Homo sapiens: one gene and its partners. The protein of the gene in region 2 purifies or fractionates together with the protein of the main gene of each other region. This does not show direct contact. Each region holds a gene or a part of one and is shown on either strand. Other genes may lie near its edges.

The links. Proteins that work in one complex are often made in the same cells at the same time.
Region 1: the proteins of GPR183 (region 2) and ITPRIPL1 purify together in Homo sapiens (affinity purification with mass spectrometry; 3 studies listed by BioGRID and IntAct, with this or other methods). This does not show direct contact.
Region 3: the proteins of GPR183 (region 2) and TMEFF1 purify together in Homo sapiens (affinity purification with mass spectrometry, with the first as the bait; 3 studies listed by BioGRID). This does not show direct contact.

What each region holds. Positions count from the first base shown.
Region 1 is NC_000002.12:96,320,872-96,328,328, forward strand, and holds the start of ITPRIPL1 (inositol 1,4,5-trisphosphate receptor-interacting protein-like 1), read left to right. Parts: upstream 1-4,445; 5' UTR 4,446-4,694; exon of another isoform or gene 4,695-4,875; 5' UTR 4,876-4,968; coding exon 4,969-4,978; intron 4,979-5,325; exon of another isoform or gene 5,326-5,736; coding exon of another isoform or gene 5,737-5,770; coding exon 5,771-7,428; 3' UTR 7,429-7,457. UniProt on the Homo sapiens protein: Functions as a ligand of CD3E, inhibiting TCR-CD3 complex signaling to regulate T cell activation.
Region 2 is NC_000013.11:99,304,376-99,311,421, reverse strand, and holds the start of GPR183 (G-protein coupled receptor 183), read left to right. Parts: upstream 1-4,022; 5' UTR 4,023-4,082; intron 4,083-7,046. UniProt on the Homo sapiens protein: G-protein coupled receptor expressed in lymphocytes that acts as a chemotactic receptor for B-cells, T-cells, splenic dendritic cells, monocytes/macrophages and astrocytes.
Region 3 is NC_000009.12:100,567,136-100,574,160, forward strand, and holds part of TMEFF1 (tomoregulin-1 precursor), read left to right. Parts: intron 1-5,382; coding exon 5,383-5,541; intron 5,542-7,025. Other genes in the region: MSANTD3-TMEFF1 fusion protein, read left to right, coding at 5,383-5,541.

The DNA of each region.
Region 1 (7,457 bases), on a different chromosome or scaffold from region 2:
AAAAAGAAGGTACAGTCTCTATCCCACCGCAAACTCTCTCCTATTTCTCATAGCTGGATCATCCTGTCACTCACTCATTTCATAACACTTAGCACTTGCACACCAGGAATTAAGCTAGGTCTAATTTTGGTCTTTGCCCTTAAGGATCCCAGTGTGATGCTGTAAGGACCCAGTGAACACTGTTGAGCCCAGGAGCGAGGTGACTAATCCGTGAGCCAGGTGCTCTAAATATACAGTAAAGGGCCATTTAATTTTTGCACCAACCTTAAAAGAGAAGGACTTTTGTCGTCATGTTTGCCAGATTAGGAAGCTGAGGCTCAGGGAGGTTCGGAACCTTGCCGGACCGAGTTGGCAGGAGGCGAGACGAGGCTCTAAGCCCTGCTCCCAGAGCTCTTTCTCCCCCATCAAGCTGCGTCCACGCGGTTAGGAAGCATCGCTTGGGCCCTGGGGGATGGGCAGCGGCAAAGGAGAGCTTTTTCCTGTCCGCTCGGGGAAGAGCGCCCAGGGGAAAGGGGTTGTGGGTCCCGGCACGCGGCACTACGCTCCCCGTCCCCCGCCTCGTCTTTCTTCGGCTCGGCCCGTGGGGCTTCCGCCGCCCTGGGCTTGCAGCTGGGACTCATTTCCAGATCGGTCGAAGGCAGGTCTTCCTTCTAGGGACCGGTAGCTCAGAGGAAGGACCGGCGGCAACCGCTGCCCTGTCCGAAAGTGCGTCTCCTTTTTCATTCCGAAATGAAATTCGTAGTTGGTTAAAACGGGGCTTGCCAGCACGATTTACAAACAAGACGAGCGCTCGCTGCAATCACATGAGGAGAAAAGGAAAGGACTAATTCATAATGCGGTCACTAGAGCCTCGATGTGCCCAGGGGAGCGCCCGCCGAGCGCCAGCGGGAACAGCGCATCGCGGACGCTGCAGGGAGTGTGGCCCCTCCGCAGGCGCGTGCACAGGCTCGCATTCTGGAGGGCAGCGCATCTCAGCCGTGCGCCCGGTCCTTGCCACCCCAAACTCCGGCAGCGAACAACGCGTCCTGGGGGCGGCCCCGCGGCTGCTCTTGGAGGCGGCGGAAAAGGCGCGTCCGCGGCTTGGGGGACGGAGGCGGGGTCGGGGGCGAAGGGAGGCGGCTCCTGGGGCCCAGAAAGCTGGCGAGGATGAGGAACCTCCCCCCACCTCCACTCCCAGCTCTCCGAACCGTGAAGACACTGCCCCGGCGCAAAGCGTCTCTAGCGGTCCTAGGCGCACCTGTTTCTGTAGAAAACGTGTTTTGTGCTCACGAGGCACACGAGGGAGGGCTTTGGGCACACAGCCCATTCATACGCTGGACACTGCATGTTTATTTTTGTGAAAAGAATACCTCCTTATTGCTAGACACCTGCAATCAATCCCTCCACCCTCAGAAGATCACTGTAAACATTTAGGGATCCACCCTTTGAAACTTTTCCGAGGCATGTGATGCACAGACACACACACATAATGGGAGTAAGCCATAGCATGTTCTTTTTTTTTTTTTTTTCTTTTTTTGAGAAGGAGTTTTATTCTGTTGCCCAGGCTGGAGTGCAGTGGTGCGATCTCAGCTCACTGCAACCTCCACCTCCCGGATTCAAGCGATTCTCCTGCCTCAGCCTCCTGAGTAGCTGGGATCACCGGCATGCACCACCACGCCCAGCTAATTTTTTTTTTTTTTTTTTGTATTTTTAGTAGAGACGGGGTTTCACCGTGCTGGCCAGGCTGGTAGCTGGGATCACAGGCATGCACCGCCACACCCAGCTAATTTTTTTTTTTTTTTTTTTGTATTTTTAGTAGAGACGGGGTTTCACCATGCTGGCCAGGCTGGTCTCGAACTCCTGACCTCAGGTGATCTGCCTGCCTCGGCCTCCCAGAGTGCTGGGATTACAGGCGTGAGCCATCGCGCCTGTCCAGCAACCACTTTTAAAACAAATCCTTAACCATGAACACACATTTTTAAGCATATGGTTTTACAGATGCTGGTGAAAATGGGGAGAAAAGGGAACTCTGATATGCTGTTGGGTAAACTAGCACAGCTGCTATGGAGAATAACATGGAGGTTCCTCAGAAAACTACAAGTAGAACTACTCACATGATCTAGCAATCCCATTACTTAAAATCTATCCAAAGGAAAGGAAATCATTATATCAAAGAGAAATCTGCACCCTCATGTTTATAGCTGCACTATTCAGAATAGCCAATATGGAATTGACCTATGTGTCCAACAATAGATGAATGAATAAGGAAAACGTGGTATATGTACACAATGGAATGCTATTTGGCCATAAAAAAAAATGAAATCCTGTCATTTGCAGCAACTTGGATGGAATTGGAGGATATTAAGTGAAATAAGCCAGGCACAGAAAGATAAACACCACATGTTCTCAGTCACATGTGGAACCTAGAAAAAGTTGATGTAATAGAAGTAAAAGGTAGAACAGAGGATGCTAGAGGCTGGGAAGGGGAGGGGAAGGTGGTGATAGGGAGGGATTTGTTAAAGGATTCAAGATTATAGCCAGATGGGAGGACTAAGTACTAGGGTTTCACACCACTGTAGGTTGACTACAGTTAACAATAATAGACCAGGCATGGTGGCTCATGCCTGTAATCCCAGCACTTTGGGAGGCCAAGGTGGGCAGATTGCTTGAGCTCAGGAGCTCGAGAACATGGTGAAACCCCCACTCTACTAAAATACAAAAAAATTGCCGGGCTTGGTGGTGTGTGCCTGTAATCCCAGCTATTTGGGAGGCTGAGGCAGGAAAACTGCTTGACCCAGGAGGTGGAGGTTGCAGTGAGCTGAGATGGTGCCACTGCACTCCAGCCTGGGTGACAGAGCAAGACTCCGTCACACACACACACAAAATAATAATAGTAATAATATATAGTTTCAAATAGCTAGAGGGAGGATTGAACCTTCCCAACACAAAGAAATGATAAATGTTTGAGATGATGGATATGCTAATTACCCTAATCTGAAATTATACATTGTATGTATGAAACATGACTGTGCACCCTATGAATATGTACAATTATTATTTGTTAATTAAAATAATACAACTTTAAAACACATGGTCTTAAACATTATCGTTTTTGCACACTCTGAAGCATATATTTTGCATCCTGACATCATGTCATAAGTGAAAAGATAAGAGACTTTCATTATTACTGCTCCAAATGCATGAATGCTCAATAACCTGTGATCTATTTTTCATAATTCACATTTATAAAAAGTAACTTTGGAACTTCAGTCATTGTCAGCTAGCAGACAGTTTTTCCTGCTCCACAATTAAATAAGTCAGTATTCTTGGAAGTATTGTACAAGTTGTTTGGGAGCTCCCTACACATTGCCACTGGATAAGAAGACCTGAAACCCAGCCATGTGTGATGGCTTACACATATAATCCCAGCATTTTGGGAGGCCGAGGCGGGCAGATCACCTGAGGTCAGGAGTTCGAGACCAGCATGGCCAACATGGTGAAACCCCGTCTTTACTAAAAATACAAAAATTAGCTGGACATGGTGGCATACACCTGTGGTCCCAGCTACTCAGTAGGCTGAGGCAGGAGAATCACTGGAACCTGGGGCGGGTAGGCTGCAGTGAGCCAAGATGGTGCCACTACACTCCAGCCTGGGTGACAGAGCGAAACTCTTTCTCAAAAACAAACAAACAAATAAAAACCCTGAAACTTGTCTTTCAGCAGAGGGATTTTAGTGAGTTAGTATCAAGGGGTCATCACTTCCTTTTCTTCTTGGATAGCTGACACAAGACAGGAAGACTAAGGGCTCTTTCTGATATCTGAAGATCCCTTTCAGGAAACCCATTCTGTTGTGTTTCTTAAGGTGTGATAAAGCTTGTCCAGCCTCCACACCGTATAAAGTTCTCCTTTATACACCCATGTATCAGCAGAGCTGCCCTGTAGGTAGGATTCTTACTCCCACGTGGCCAGTGAGTAGCAAGCAAGGCCCCAAGTAAGGTCTTTGGGTGCTGTCTGTTCTTTCATGAGAGTCACTTTGATATGAGAAAGGGGTTGGGGAAAGATGCCTGAGTCTGGGCGTGGGCTGGGAGGGAAGCACATTTAGGGTGCTGAAACCACATCTTATTTCGTGTGCCATTTTGCTCAGGGCCAGCCCGAAGTGAGAATGGCTTTTCTCGGTCAATTCCTAGTTTTGCCACCATCATCCTTACACCCGAATCCTAGTAAGTCTGTTCTCCACTGAACTGAGCTGAGTGCAGCTGACAGCAGGCACGGCGGTGCCCCATTTGCCACCCCAGGGAGGCCGAGCAGCGGAGAGTGTGTGGCCACGGCCCCTCCACTCTCCCAGCAAACCCACGGGGGCCTCGGTGCGGACAGAGACCCGGTGTGGGGAGGCCGCTGCCCCTGCACGCTGGGCCACGGGGGTTTGGGCGGGGAGGAGCTTGTACTGGGTGGGCGGGGAGGAGCCCGGACGGCGGGAGCGGCTGCGGCGCGCGGGCGCCCTCGGAGCCGCGTGCTGGGGGTCGTAGGGGCCCACCGCGCTCAGCCAGACGTTCAGACGCTCGGACAAGCATGGTCTATAACCCAGGAAAGGGGAGCAGGGCCACTCCCGCGGGCGGCCCCAGCGATGAACCGGACGCCCCCACCCTGCCGGGAAAAAAGCAGTGGCGGTCAGGCCGCGCTGTCTCTTTAAGATCGTGTTCCTACTAACACTGACGGTGAGTAACCTGGCCCTGGGTCCCGGGAGACATCCCGAGGTAGGATGGGCCCTTGGCCTCCTACGGATAGGCGGGTGAGAGTACAAATCTCTGGGCGTGGAATTTGGGGAAGTTATGAATGGGGGGAGGGTCGGGTTCCGATTTGAGCCAAAGCCCCCAGGTACCTTGTACATTTTAACAGGGCTCCTAGAGAGGGCGGGGAGACGAAGCAAGGCCAAGTTCCAAAGGGAGGATAGGCCCAGCTGGCTTCAGCGTCCACACGGCATAGTCCTTCATGAATGTTGGTAAGCGCGGTAGCTTGTGAATTAGGGTGAGTGGCAGAAGCTCGGGCTTCACGGGTGGGTGGGGAGGCAGTGGAACTGACCACTGCCGGCTGTCAGGTAGGCCTTGGGCACCTGGTTCTGCAGACAGTTTTCTGAACTAAGAAGTGAAGCTAGCCTGCCCACACACGGGGTATCCACTAGCCCCTTAGGAGCAGAGAGGGCACCGTAGCAAGCAGCTGGCGGCACTGTGCCTCTCTTGCGCTCCCTGGGCAGAGAGGGAGAGGCTGAGTGATGAGGCTCACTTCATACTGGGTGAGCAGAATGAAGACTGTGAAGTCACAGAGGAAGTGGAATGCTACAACTGGCTGCCGGGGCAGAGGAAAGGTGTCACCCAGGCAGGTTCAGGGCTTTCTGGCTATAAAAGGGAGCCTCTGGGATCAGCAGGTCATATCTGGTGCCCATGGTTGACTGAGGAGTCGGGTGAGGCCACCCTACCACAAGGGTCCCCCTCCCCATCCTACACAGGAATGAAAACAGTCCCATGTACACTTTCTGGAAGCCTAAATACCACCCACACCATGTGGAAGGAAAGCAGGAGAGAGACTGAGTGGCACATCCTTTCGCCCTCTTTTCTCTCGAACCTCCTCCCAGGCCGACCACCCTTGCTGTGTCCAAGCCAAGCTCTGTGGGCTTTCTGTTCCTCCTGAGTAGCTGATTTTCAGAATTTGGGGTACCAGGGCTCTGGGGAATGTGAGCTAGAGAGCAGATAAGTCTGGAAGATGACCACTGACTCCTACTCTCCTACTTCTCCAGATGCAGAGGCCTCCATGGCTGTGATAAGCCTGCTGTTCTTGGCAGTGATGTATGTTGTTCACCACCCTCTGATGGTCAGTGATCGGATGGACCTGGACACATTAGCCAGGAGTCGGCAGCTGGAGAAGCGAATGAGTGAGGAGATGCGCCTGCTAGAGATGGAGTTTGAAGAGAGAAAGCGAGCCGCTGAGCAGAGGCAGAAGGCAGAGAACTTCTGGACAGGAGACACATCCAGTGACCAGTTAGTGCTGGGGAAGAAAGACATGGGGTGGCCGTTCCAGGCCGATGGCCAGGAAGGGCCTCTGGGCTGGATGCTGGGAAACCTGTGGAACACTGGCCTCTTTTGCCTTTTTCTCGTCTTTGAGCTCCTGCGACAGAACATGCAGCATGAACCGGCCTTTGATTCCAGCAGTGAGGAGGAGGAGGAGGAAGTCCGTGTTGTCCCTGTCACCTCTTACAACTGGCTTACTGACTTCCCCTCCCAGGAGGCCCTGGACTCCTTTTACAAACACTATGTCCAAAATGCCATCCGTGACCTGCCCTGCACCTGTGAGTTTGTGGAGAGTTTTGTGGATGATCTCATTGAGGCCTGTCGGGTGCTCAGCCGCCAAGAGGCTCACCCACAATTGGAAGACTGCCTGGGCATCGGGGCTGCCTTTGAGAAATGGGGAACCCTCCATGAGACCCAGAAATTTGATATCCTGGTGCCCATTGTCCCCCCACAGGGCACCATGTTTGTCCTGGAGATGAGGGACCCAGCCCTGGGCCGCCGCTGTGGCTGTGTGCTGGTGGAGTCAGAATGTGTGTGCAAGCGTGAGAAACTCCTAGGGGACGTGCTGTGCCTGGTGCACCACCACAGGGACCCCTCGGCAGTCTTGGGGAAGTGTAGTAGCTCCATCAAGGCAGCTCTCTGCACCGGCTTCCACCTAGACGTGTGCAAGACTGTGCAGTGGTTCCGGAACATGATGGGCAATGCCTGGGCCCTTGTGGCCCACAAGTATGACTTTAAACTCAGTCTCCCACCGTCTACCACCTCCTGCAAGCTCCGGCTGGACTATCGCTCAGGCCGCTTTCTCTCAATCCACTTGGTCCTGGGGGTGCAACGAGAAGACACCTTGGTCTACCTGGTGAGTCAGGCTCCTGACCAGGAGCAGCTCACCAGTGTGGACTGGCCTGAGTCCTTTGTGGCCTGTGAGCACCTGTTCCTGAAGCTGGTGGGGCGCTTTGCCCCCGAGAACACCTGTCACCTCAAGTGCCTCCAGATCATTTTAAGTCTCCGGCAGCATCAGAGCTTACCCCATGGAGCATCCCGCCCCATCCTCACTTCTTACCATTTTAAAACAGCTCTCATGCACCTCTTGCTACGGCTGCCCCTCACGGACTGGGCCCACAACATGCTCTCTCAGCGGCTCCAGGACATTCTCTGGTTCTTGGGCCGTGGCCTCCAGCAAAGGTCCCTCCATCATTTCCTCATTGGTAACAATTTTCTGCCCCTGACCATCCCAATCCCTAAGACATTTAGGAATGCTGAGCCGGTCAATCTCTTCCAACACCTGGTGCTCAACCCCAAGGCACATTCACAGGCAGTGGAAGAGTTCCAAAACCTTCTGACCCAGGTGAAAACTCTGCCTCATGCCCCACTGGCTGCAGCACCTTGATGTAAAGACCATTAAAAAAAAAACAGAGG
Region 2 (7,046 bases):
CACCTACAGTCATGACAAAGACGTCCCAGGCCCTGAATCTCCATCCCCATTCTGATCCTGTGCTCCGCAGGACAGCACCTTCTCAGAGAGGTCCTCCCTGACTGCCCCATTTCAAACCGCACCTCCCGCCCTCACAGCCTTCCCCCTCTGCATTCTCTACTCTCTTCCTGACTGTCCTCCCCCACAGCACTTACAGCCTTCTCATCACTGCCTATCTATCTTAAAAGTAGAATGGAAGCTTCACATAGATGGGGATTTTGGTCTGTTTTGTTTTATTCCCACTGTCTAGAATTGTGCCTGGCATAGAGTAAGGTTTCAATAAATATTTGCAGAAGAAATGAATTTTCCTTTAAAACAGTAAAACCATACAGCAGAACTTGCCTTTTGTTTTAAAAAGCCCCCTTCCTTTTTATCATTTTTAATGGGATTAAAACACATGGTTTCATATGTAGCTCAAAATATGGCCTGCTCTCTTGGTGATTATAGAACCCTATTTGGGGAGCCAATCGCACCAGAGGTCTCTTACCACAGAACATGCCCTTGGAGGCGCTTAATTCATAGAAGTTCTTCTGTTTACATTTAGTAATAAAGTACAAATAGTGATGTTATAACTAAATAACCTAAAGCAGAGTTCTTTTTTGAGGTTACATTTCAACGTAAACTAAAAAAAATACTGGTAGAAATTTTAATGACCACAGTTTACATTTCACATACCAATAGAAGTTTAAAAACTCCTTTAAAAATATTAATCACTGTATAATTTTAAATGATGACTAAATACTAGGCCACACATACACATTTCAGACCAAAATTATATGGGCTGTTCTGCAGAAATTTTCCGTTGCTATTTCTACACACACAGACTTCACAAAATACCATAATGTTATTAGTCACTGACCAGTCTTTTTCTTTTCCTTATTTTATGACAACATCTGTTCTCTATACTGTCAACAGTAATTCAGTTTGACCTTTTTCATACTGTGAAGAACTACCTTCTGGAAGCCCTTTCTGGCTTAAGCAGATGAGGCTGGTAGCACAGAAAAGAGAAAGCAGGTTATAAACATTTCATCCATCCTTTCTTTTTTTCTTGAGACACCGGTATCTGTCAGTCACCCAGGCTGGAGTAGAGTGCAGTGGCATAATCACGGCTCACTGTAGCCTCTAATTCCTAGGCTCAAGCAATCTTCTCGCCTCAGCCTCCAGAGTAACAGGGACTACTGGTGTGTGCCACCACACCTGGCTAATTTTTAAACTTTTTTTAGAAACAGGGTCTCGCTGTGTTCCCCACAGTGATCTCAGACTCCTGGCATCAGGCAATCCTCCTGCCTCAGCCTTCTGAATTGCTGAGATTACAGGCGTGAGCCATTGCTAATTCATCCTTTAAAATCACTAATATTTACTGAGCATCTACTGCTATATATTCATGATCGCACTCGATAGAAAACATAAAATAACAGAGACACCTTGTTAAGGTTGCAAATGTCCATTTCACTTCTTCTATAGAAAAGGTCACTGGATGTGGTGGCTCATACCTGTAATCCCAGCACTTTGGGAAGCCAAGGTGGGCAGATGGCTTGAGGTCAGGAGTTTGAGACCAGCCTGGGCAACATAATGAGACCTTGTCTCCACACACACACACAAAAAAATACAAAAATTAGCTGGGCGTGGTGGCATGTGCCTGTAGCCCCAGCTACTTAGGAAGCTGAGGTGGGAGGATCACTTGAGCCCAGGAGGCAGAGGTTGCAGTGAGCCAAGATCGTGCCACTGCACTCCAGCCTGGGCAACAGAGTGAGACCCTGTCTCCAAACAAACAAACAAAAAAACTGTAAAGGCCAACTCTACTTTTACAGTACAATCACAACTCAAGAAACCCTGGTAACTTTCAACAGCAATAAAAACAAGGTTTGTGAGCTCATGAAATGATCTAATATACAGCTTCAGCGGCCTCTTACAGGATAATGACCCCATCACCTCTTCTTCATCTGCCTGACTACTCTGATATCAAAAAAAAGGGGCTGGGCACGGTGGCTCACACCTGTAATCCCAGCACTTTGGGAGGCCAATGCAGGCAGATCATGAGGTCAAGAGATTGAGACCATCCTGGCCAACATGGTGAAACCTTGTCTCTACTAAAAATACAAAAATTAGCTGGGCATGGTGGCATATGCCTGTAGTCCCAGCTACTCGGGAGGCTGAGGCAGGAGAATTGCTTGAAGCCGGGAGGTGGAGGTTGCAGTGAGCCGACAGCACACCCCTGCACTCCAGCCTGGTGAGAGCGAGACTCTGTCTCAAAAAAAAAAAAGAAGGTTGGGAGGACAGATCCAGTTTGTCAGAGGAATTACTTGAACTAGCTGAGTCCTTCACTATATAAAAATGTTTTACTTAATATAACTATTTCAAAATTAACAGGCAAAACCCCACCAGAATGGTCTTTCAACAAACTGAAAAATTTATCAACAGTGTCTTCTTCAAGTACTCTGCAGCCTAAGTTTTAAATGAACTAGTTCTAGAATATGATGTCATGTTTATCCACCAAGTCATAAAATCTCTGTATTACCCCCTCATAGAATTTTTGTACTAGGAATTACCTTGGAGATCATTTAGTTCAATACCTTTATTTTATACACAGTGAGGTGGCGGCCCAAAGAATTCAGCTGACTTGCTTGATGCTCTTTCTTGTGTCTGACAATGTTCCTCCATACTCACAGCACTTTAGACGTTAGAAGAACCTAATGACATCTGTGGGAGGCAAAAGCTACTCGACTATTTTTACAGAATCCTGGAGCAGAAAGGCTTCTGAGATCACAGAGTTACAAATTCCTACCAAATGATTCAATTCTGTTTACATCATCCCTCAAAATCATCAAGTTTACTCAAGCATCTAAATAAGAAACAGCATATTCCATTTTTCAAAATAATCACAACTTTTGGGAATGACTCTCATCTTTTGATCCAAAAGCTATGTCCAGTAACTTCTTACTGACCCTCCCGCTAGTCTCTGGAGTTAGGAAGACTGACACAAGCAATGTAAACACTTTTCTATGAGAGTTTCCACAAGCATAAGGATAATGACCCTATGCCTACAAAGCATACACATCCCCAGCTTATTTAATCAGTTCTCCTAAGACCTGCTATCCAGGCCCCTCACTGCCACAGGTGTTATCTATGTCTTCGTAAAAAGCAGCACCCAGAAGTGGCTGGGAATGGCCAGATCAGTCCTGACTAAGTGTAAACATCACCTCTCCTGATCTGAGTGCTACATATCTGGTAATTTAGCCTACAAATAAACTGCATTCTGACAGACACGTTAGTTGGTTTAAACTGAGTCAACTACAACTATGAGGTGAATGGCATGAGTCTCTTTCACCCTGTGCTGAAGAGGCTGGATTTTATCTATAATGGGCCTCCCTTCAACTGTTTCCCTGTTATTCAAGTACTCACACAGCCTCTGACTCAGGCAGCCTCTCGACTGAAAACGGCGACTAATCCAGTCCACTCCACATCCTGGACTGTCACTCACCCCCACGCCACAGAAACCTGTTTCTTTCTCATAAGCTGTGGATAAGGTGGAATGTGTAAACTACTCCCTGATACCAAGTTTCCAGGTAAAAAGCACTGTCAAAGTTGACACTATTTTCCTTAAAACATTTAAAAACCCATACTTTTACATGCAAAATCAATATAAAATCATCAGTAACTTGGTCTTTTTTTTGGTTAAGGTTTATTGCTTCAGTCTCTTTCAAAGAATTTTTTGATACTTAAACCTTTACAGAAAAATTTATAAAGTTCCACAGATATCAACAATTCATAAATTCCAAGGGGCTTTTGGATAGTTTTTTTTAATCACTATAAAAAATTTCACTTCCCATTTAAAACAAAAAAAAACACAAAGTGCACACACGTACACGAGGCTAACTGCTCATTACATGCTCAGTCACAGGGTGACAGAGAAAAAAAAAGTCACCACCATAAAAGGAGGTCTGCACAGCCTCTCTTAAAACAACATGCCACAGTTAAAACTTACTTCAGTTTGGACAACTACTCACAGCTACTACACAGAGACCCGAACGAGTCACTGATATGTAAGTACAAGATCTTTTGCTTTTTCAACAAACTTTTTAAAGAAAAACTTTAAAAGCCTAAGTTTTAAGGTAAAAGGTAAAAAGGAAAACAATCTATTTAAGAACAAGCTACCATCACTTCTAACAAAAATTATATTAATAATGTAAGTTTACTCTCTCTGCTGACTGGTAGGTCTAGTTAGTTCTTATAAAGTTGACTGAAAGCGATGGGTCCACCAGAAATATCTTTGTCAAAAAATAGGGCTCACTTCATGTACTACTGTATAAACTCACAATGACAAAAGACAGTATCAAGCAAAACTATGCAAATAATGCCAATATTTCAGGATAACTTAGTATGAAGGAAAAGGAACAAAGTTATTTTAATATAGAATATTCCTATGCTATAGGAATTATTAGAAATATAAGATTATTTCTCAGGATAGAATCTCAGGGGTAGAATTCCTAGGGCAAAGGGTATATTTTCTAAAGCTTTAGATATAAAACGGTACTTTTTGGTCTACAAAAACATTTTACCAATTTACCCTCCCGCCAGCAAAGAGTACCAATCTTTGCTTTTTAAATGCTAAATACTACTAATTAGATAAGTGAAAAAAAAGTCTGTTGTGTGGTTTATACTTGTGTTTACTTAGACTAAACGTATCTTTTCTATGTGCCTGAGGGGAAAAAATCACAATGAATTCTATGCAGTGCTTTGGCAACATTTATGTCCAGGTTGGGAATGGTGGTAACAGAAACTTGGCAAAATAGAAGCTGTGAAGAGACTTCCTTTAAAGGGCAGTGAGGGTTTTATATATGTGTGTTTGTGTGTGTGTTGGGGGAGGGGGGCGTGGTATTTTGTTTTTTTGGTGTCACTCTGAGTACAATATAGTGTAATAAGAGCAAGGGCTCTGAAATCAGGATCAAATGAAATTTACAAGCTGTGTGGCCCCCCCACACACAAGTTACCTAATATCTGGCTTCAGCTGCTTTACCTGTAAAATGGGGAGTATTACTACTGCCAAGTCCTTACAACATTGCCTCTCATTATAAGTGCTAAAAAACTGTCTCCCATCATTCTTCTCCCATCTCTCTGGCCACTGACGTACCAGAGGGTGAATCCAACAGATATGTTATGGATATTTTACATAAAGACCCTGAATCAGGCTGGGTGTGGTGGCTCACTCCTGTAATCCCAGCACTTTGGGAGGCCGAGGCAGGCGGATCACCTGAGATCAGGAGTTCGAGACCAGCCTGGCCAACATGGTGAAACCCCATCTCTACTAAAAATATAAAAGTTAGCCAGGCACGGTGGCACTCACCTATAATCCCAGCTACTCAAGAGGGTGAGGCAGGAGAATCCCTTGAACCTGGGAGGCGGAGGTTGCAGTGAGCCGAGATTGCGCCACTGCACTCTAGCCTGGGCGACCATGCGAGACTCTGTCTCGATAGATAAATAAATAAATAAATAAATGGCCCTGAGTCTATGGATGATCACACATCTAACTGTGCTTACTGGTAGGACTGCACACTTCTTATATTTTAGCATGTTTTCTCTCTGCGGGTTCACTGCACTTTTTGGACATAAAACCACAAAGAATATGCTACTCCACAAAATGTTCACTCACATGTTTATGTATCGCGTTAGTGACAATGGTAATGATCCCTTGCATAAATTACTTTCATCTGGCTTCCTAGAGCTAATTAGTACCATGACCAGTCAGTTAATGGAATAAATATTAACTCAGGTTTCTATATGACTTTAATTCATTTATTTATTCTATAGATATTTACTAGATATCTATTGTAGGTTGGTTCTGTAGCATTCTATAGGATAAAATGTTGGATGAGATCAAGTCATCATCCTCAAGAAGCTTACATTTAAAAGAGCTTCGCACCTAATAAAGCCGTTTACAGGGATACTTTTCTCTCTGCTATGGTTAAGACCTGCTGGAGTTGTTAGGCAGCCCTGGACGTGGCCTGTGTAGAGGACGCGTGGTGTTCTCCAGTCTGGGGGGTTTATCACCTTCTCAAGAAGTCTGGGCATTGTATAAAATGAGATAACACATGTGAGAATCCTCTGAAAGCTGTGACAGTAACACAGATGGCTGTGGTGTTTTGGAAGCCCAAAGAGAAGAATAAAAATATTTTGTTAAATCTCTGCAAATATCTAAAAAGTAGTTTAAAAATCAATTAACAGCATAAAAGCCTATTCTAGATATTCACCATCTTTTTTCAATCGAAATTTCAGTCTAAATTGTTTTATTATTAAAATACTGTTAAAACAGTACTCTAAATCCATTTATAAAACCTTTACTTACTTTAAAATATGCTACAAATAAACTAATAAACTCCTTCATTTGAATCAACATCTCTTCCTCCCTGCTCCCATTCCCTTCCCCCAGTTCTCCTAGTCTCTCTTGTTCAGATAGGTATGAGTTAGTGTACGTTAAGGTTTTGAGATGCCTTCCTATTTTACTTGTTTTCTACCCATAATAGCAGATCACGTCGGAAATAGGAGATAAAATGTATTGTACTGAATGTGACTTCTGAAGCCAAACTGCCTGGGTCTGAATCCTAACATTTAACAGCTAGGTCTTTGGTCACTTAAGTGCCCTGGTGCCTCCGTTTCACCTTCTGTCAATGGACTTGTGAAAGTTCTGAGAGGATTCAATGAGTAAACACACATAGAGTGCCCAGGGCAGTGCCTGGAACACAGTCTCTGCTTAGTAATTTTAATTGATTATTATTCATCAAGGGCTTACTGGGGTGTAATAAAGAACCTTTCATTAAGGATTAAGAAAGCTGCAATGTTGCTATTCTTTAACTAATGGGTATTTATTGAATATCGATCATACATCACCTAGAGATACAAGAAATTAACACCATAGGGTCCCCACTCACAGTACTTCACAGGCTCATGGGAGACAGGGAAGAAAATCAATGATGCAGACACTATGACAGAGCACAGCACTCTCACAAATA
Region 3 (7,025 bases), on a different chromosome or scaffold from region 2:
GTCTGGCTCTCCTCTCCCTCACCCCCTCTTCTGCAGCCACACTTGCTGTTCTTGGGCATGCCATGCATGCATGGATGCTCCCACTTTAGGGGACTTGCACTGGCTCTTCCTTTGCCTGGTATGCTGTCCTCCAATTGTTTGCATGGCAGGCTCCTCACCTCCTTCAAGTCTTTACTCACGTGTTACCTTCTTAACCTACCCGGATTGCCTTATTTAAAATTGCAACCCTCCCTTCCTGCAACTTTCCTGGCTCATACCTGGTGTTCGCAGTTTCCCTTAACACCTCACACCCCACATCCCCTGTAGTGCATATCACCTTCTAACATAACCATTTAATTCACTTACTTTGTTTATTGACACTCTTCTCCCGGTAGCTGGTAAGCAGGCCAGGGATCTTTATCTGTTCTGTTCACTGATACATCCCAAATGCTCACCACAGTAGGTGCTCAATAATTGTGGTAAATGGATGTGTGAATGAATTCACACGTGAGACAGTGGGAGTGAATGGGATTGCCTGTGGAAGGTGTTTTGGGATGAAAATAGAAAGTGGAGGACTGAATCCCTGGATCTGCCTTTAATCAGTAACAGAAGAAGAAGTAATAACCTAGAAGTTAGTACTCTAGGTATTAGGAGAGTGTATTAGTCTGTTTTCACTGCTAATAAAGACATACCCAAGACTGGGCAATTTACAAAATAAAGGGTTTAATTGGACTTACAGTTCCACGTGGCTGGGGAGGCCTCACAATCATGGGGGAAGGCAAAGAGGAGCAAGTCACATCTTACCTGGATGGCAGCCAGTAAAGAGAGGGCCTGTGCAGCAAAACTCCAGTTTTTAAAACCATCAGATCTCGTGAGACTCATTTACTGTCACAAGAACAGTGCAGGAAAGACCTGCCCCCATAATTCAATCACCTCCCACTGGGTTCCTCCCACGACACATGGGAGTTGTGGGAGTTACTATTCAAGATGGGATTGGGGTAGGGCACAGCCAAACCATATCAGATAGTATAACCAAAAGTCAGTTGGAGAAAATGATATCCAGGGAGAACTGCAGGGATGATATATGGCCTATTGGTTCTTTTTGATACTCTGATTTTAATCTTTGGCTTAAGCCAAACCATTAGAGAGCTGCATATCTAGGACATTGTTACAGCTCCTTATGGAACTGTTTTTATATTACTGAGCTTTGACTATTGGCCATTAGCCTACCATGAAGGACATTATTTAAAAAATCCCATGAGACTTCATTATATCATTGAATTTACTGCAGCTGTGTTGTTGAGGATAATGTTCTTTATGTTAGAAGGTGCCCTCTTTAAATGAGGACCAATGAGATTAAGTTCCCTTAAGTTTCATAACAGTAATAACTGTGCTTCTTTTGAATGACTTGTTTGATTTTATTTTATGGAGATTGTATTTTGTGTCAACTGTCCTCCCTCCCTCCTTCCTTCCCTCCCTCTCTTCCTTCCTTCCTTCTCCATTGGTGTTTAATATATGCACAGAGTTGTGCAACCATCACCACAATCAATTTTAGTACATTTTCATCTCCTCAAGAGGACACCTCATACCCTTTAGCTTTTACTCCCAAATCCCCTCATGCTCTCTAGCTCTAGGCATCCGCTAATTTATTTTCTATCTCTATAGACTTACCTATTCTGGATAGTTCATGTAAATTGAACTATATAGTATGGGGTCTCCTGTGTCTAGCTTTTTTTAACTTAGCGTAATATTTTCCAGGTTCATCCATGTCATAACACATATCAGTACTTCATTCCTTTTTGTGGCTGAATACTATTCCATTGTATGGATGACACCACATGTTTTTAATCTACTCATCATCAGTTGATGAAAATTTAGGTTCTTTCCACTTTATGGTTATTATGAAAAATGCTGCTCTGAATGATCATTTGCAAGTTTTTGTGTGAACGTGTTTTAATTTCACTTGGGTAAAGCTTAGTGGTAGAATTGCTGGGCCAAATGGTAACCCTGTGTTTAACATTTTGAGGAGCTGCCAGACCGTTTTCCAAAGTGGCTGCACCATTTTACACACCCTACAGTACCTTTGACAACACTTGTAATTATCTGACTTTTTGATTTAGGCTATCGTAGTAACTGTAAAAACTGGCATATACGGTGGCTTTGATTTTTATTTCCATGATGGCTAATGATGTTGAGCATCTTTTCATGTGCTTATTGGCTATTTGTATATCTTCTCTGGAGAAATGTCAGTACACATCCTTTGCTCTTTTATTTTTTGGCTATTATTGAGTTGTATTAGTTATTTATATATTCTAGATATAAGTCCCTTATCAGATATATGGAACTTACTTTTTTTTTCCATTTTGTGGCTTGTCTTTTCACTTTCTTGATAATGTCCTTAAGTACAAAAGATTTTAATTTTGATTTAGTGCTATTTATCTTTTTTGTTGTTGTTGTTGCTTTTGATTTTTGGTGTCATATCTAAGAAACTGTTGCCTAATCTAAGGTCACAAAGATTTACTCCTATGTTTTATTCTCTTCTAAAAATTAAATTTATTTAAAAATTGACAAAATTATGTATACATATTATGTACATCATATTTGGAAATATATATACATTGTGAAATGTCCAATCAAGCTGATTAACATATGCATTACCTCACATTGTTACCACTTTTGTGGTGAGAACACTTAAAATCCTCAGCATTTTCCAAGAATACACTGCATTGTTAACTATAGTCACCATGTTGTACACTACATTTCTTGAACCTATTCCTCCCATCTAACTGAAATTTAGTATCCCCTGACCAACATGTCCTCAAAGCACCTCCTACCACACCAGTCCCTGGTAACCACTATTCTACTCTCTACTTCTATGAGATCAACTTTTTTAGGTTCCACATATGAGTGGGATCACTCAGTATATGTCTTTCTATGCTTGGCTTATTTCACTTAATATAATGTTCTGGAGGTTCATCCATGCAAATGATAGGATTTCCTTCTTTTTTATGGCTGAATAGTATTCCATTTTGTATATATACCTCATTATTTTATCCATTTATTTGTTAATGGACACTTAGATTAAATCCATATCTTAGCTATTGTGAATAATGCTGCAATAAACGTGGTAGTGCAGATATTTCTTCAATATACTGATTTTATTTCCTATAGTTATATACCCAGTAATGAGATTGCTGGATCATATGGTAGTTTTATTTTTAATTTTTTGAGGAACTTCCATACGGTTTTCCATAATAACTGTATCTTATGTTTTTTTTCTTCAGAGTTTTATAGTTTTAGCTCTTACGTTTAGATCTGCGATCCATTTTGAGGCAATTTTTGTGTATGACACGAGGAAGAGGTCTAGCTTCATCCTTTTGTGTGTGGATATCCAGTTAGCACCATTTGTTGAAGAAACAGTTCTTTCCCCATTGAGTTATCTTAGCACCCTTGTCAAAACCAATTGACCATAGATGTATGGGTTTATTTCTAGGCTCTCCATTCTCTTCCATGATCCACATACCTGCCCACTGCTTGTTTTTTTTTGTTTGCTGGAAAGCGTAGAGCCCAATGTGAAATGTACTGGGAAGTGTCTAGGAACCTCAGGGACTGGATTGGTAGACTTGCAGCACCCCTGGATTTCCCTGTTTCCCTCCTCCCACATTTCTTTTTTGTTGTTTTAATGTGTGCTTTGCGATAAGCTGCCTCAAATTCTTTTCTTAATGAGTTGTGGGACATTCATAAATACTGTTTTTATACTTCAAATGTTTTATTAATCAGTTCTCACTGAAGGCTGGCTAATTTATACATTTCACTGCTGTCAGCTTAAAAATGTAAATTGTCTGTTAAGTGTCTTAAATATTTCTCCCTGTCAAATTATCATCAGCTGATGCAGTTGTCTTTTTATCTACTTTTAATTGGAATTCAGATAATTTCCAAGATTAGCACCTACAGCTTACCTCCTTGACTGCTTGACATTGTTTCTGTTATTAATAACTTATTTTCATCTTCCCCTTGCATCTTACATGTTTATATTTTATACACTGAAAAGTGTCTTGAATATAATTTGGTGCTATGTTCAGAGGACTGTAAATGTTTATACCTATTTTTTCAATAGTCTTAATTTTCAGGTACTTAGCCCTAAGGAATAACACTAAATATAGAAAAGCGCATATTCACCAAGATGTTTACCACATCTAATTTATAATTGTGAAAAATTGAAAATAACTGACATGTCTTAGAACTGGGAATAGATAATGCTAGCTATATTATAGTCACTGGATGGAGTATTATATTTCTGTTTTGAAATTATATGTATCTATTTTGAAAAAAATGCTAAGAGAGTAGATTTTAAGTGTTCTCACCACAGACATGATAACTATATGAGGTAATGCATATGTTAATTAGCTTGATTTAGCCATTCCACAATGTCTATACATTTCCAAATATCATGTTGTACATCAGTGGTCCCCAACCTTTTTGTTGCCAGGGACTAGTTCCGTACAAGACAGTTTTTCCATGGACTGGGGATTGGGGGTGGGGGTGATGGTTTGGGGATGATTCAAGTGCATTACATTTATTGTGCACTTTATTTCTATTATTATTACATGGTAATACTTAATGAAATAATTATACAACTCACCATAATGTAGAATTGGTGGGAGCTCTGAGCTTGTTTTTCCTGCAATTAGACAGTCCCATCTGGGGGTGATGGGGGACGGTGACAGATCCTTAGGCATTAGATTCACATAAGGAGCACTCAACCTAGATCCCTTGTGTGCGCAGCTCACAATAGGGTTTGCGCTCCTATGAGAATCTAATGCCAGTGCTGATCTGACAGGAGGCGGAGCTTGGGTGGTAATGTGAGTGATGGGGAGTAGCTGTAAATACAAAGAAGCTTTGCTTACTTGCCCACCACTCACCTCCTGCTGTGTGGCCTGGTTCCTAACAGGCCATGGACCAATATCTGTCCATGGCCCGGGAGTTGGGGGGGATCCCTGTTGTACATGATAAATATACGTAATTTTATTTGTCAATTTTTAAGCAAATTTAATTTAAAAAGTGAAAAAAAGGAGTAAATCTTTGTGGCTTTAGATTAGGCAATAATTTCTTAGATATGACACCAAAAGCAAAAGCAACAATAACAAAAAAAGATATACATTAACAATATTCAGCAACTTTAAAATTAATGTGATATAACTTAGGTGAAAGACGCACCATGTAGGCATATCAGAAAGACAGTAGGGAAACATACAAATGACATTTTTCCCCCAGATGGTAGGAAAGTGCATGATATCCTATTCCTGTTTAAATTTTATTACTATTTTGTATTTTTTAATGTAAAAGCTTGGGAGTATCAAAATTTGTAATTTTCATAGGAATATATATATTTTTCCTTTTCAGATGTGAATCTGGCTACACTGGACAGCACTGTGAAAAGACAGACTTTAGTATTCTCTATGTAGTGCCAAGTAGGCAAAAGCTCACTCATGTTCTTATTGCAGCAATTATTGGAGCTGTACAGATTGCCATCATAGTAGCAATTGTAATGTGCATAACAAGGTAGGTAATGATGTAAGAAATATCAACTTTAAATTAGAGGCAGGCAACTGTTTATTTATAGATGCTTTGAGGCCACCAGTCTATTAGGAAAAATCTTATGATCAGTTCCCTGAGGTTTTCAGTGGTCTCTCCCTATCCTTCTTCTTTAGGATACGGGCAGGGACTAATTCCCAGTCTTACAGGTATATCTGGGCGACAAGCAGAGAGGGAATGAGAATAGTCAATGAGATAAAGGAATTTAGGGATCTGAGAACTGTATACAGTCTTTGAACACTGTATTCTGGGAAAATAATGTTAGTAGCAATCTTTTTTTTTTTTTTTTAAGAGACAGGGCCTCACTCTGTTGCCCAGGCTGGAGTGCAGTAGCAATTAGAGCTCATTGCAGCCTCAAATTCCTGGGCTCAAGTGGTCCTCCAGAGTAGCTGAGACTATAGGCGTGAACCACCCTGACTGGCTCAGAATTTCTAGAATGATCTGCACATGCATAGGAGATCCATGCAGAAGATTTTTAAGCCCTGCACAACTGCAAGGGGTTCTGTGCCCTAAGAACGTACTTTACTCACAGTTAGTATAGTAAGAAAGGAAGAAATCAGAGGCTGAAGATAGTTTTATTGTGATATCATGGTGTTAACATTACTTCATTTTCAGGATTGCAGCGATAAGTAATAAGCTTTAAAATTCTGTATTATAAATAAAATTATTCGTCATAAATTAAATGACTTATTTGGAGTGCAGTGGCATAAAATGGGTCTTTTCTAAACTGAGTAGAAATACATAAGTCAGACTGAACTGGGCCTGAGAAAAGTCAGAGTAAATCCAGCAAGTTCGTGTTGTCTTTGTGCTTCCCAGTCTAATGCTTTTCTTCCTGCTTACCTCTTTCTTTAAGCTTCAGTTCAGAAGTCTCATAAGCATCATTTCTCCACTTCCCTGCATTATTCTGGGCAGAGGGTTGAAGCATATCAAATACAGATATTGGCAGGCCATAATGGATTTGTGGCCCTTCTATCCAAGGTCTGGATAGAAGCCAGACCTTCAGTAGTCTCAGCCATCTGGAGCTGAGATGATAAATCTAGAAATGATAAAAAAGAAAAGGTTCTCCAAGTAACAGATATTTTTCATAACACCTAGGCATGAAAGTCAGTGCGCTTTATTTCACAGAACAGATGATCTGCCCTTAGGCAAGACTACTGAATATAAAATTGGACGGTAGATCAAAGTAGGGACATAATCATGTAACAAATAATGATAACAGAAAGAGAAGATAGGGAAAACACATTTAACAGCATGACTGGCTGTAGCCATTTAATATAGACTCAGAGGTTAAGTAATTTGTCTGTGGTCATCCGACTAGTAAGTGGAATTGTCTGGATTTGGATTCAGTTTGATTCCCATTCATTCTTTACACTGAAAGGTTCCATGTTGAGTCATCTTGGGAAACATGTTTGCCCAGTATGACCATTGCATGGGAGCAGGGTTCAAACTTG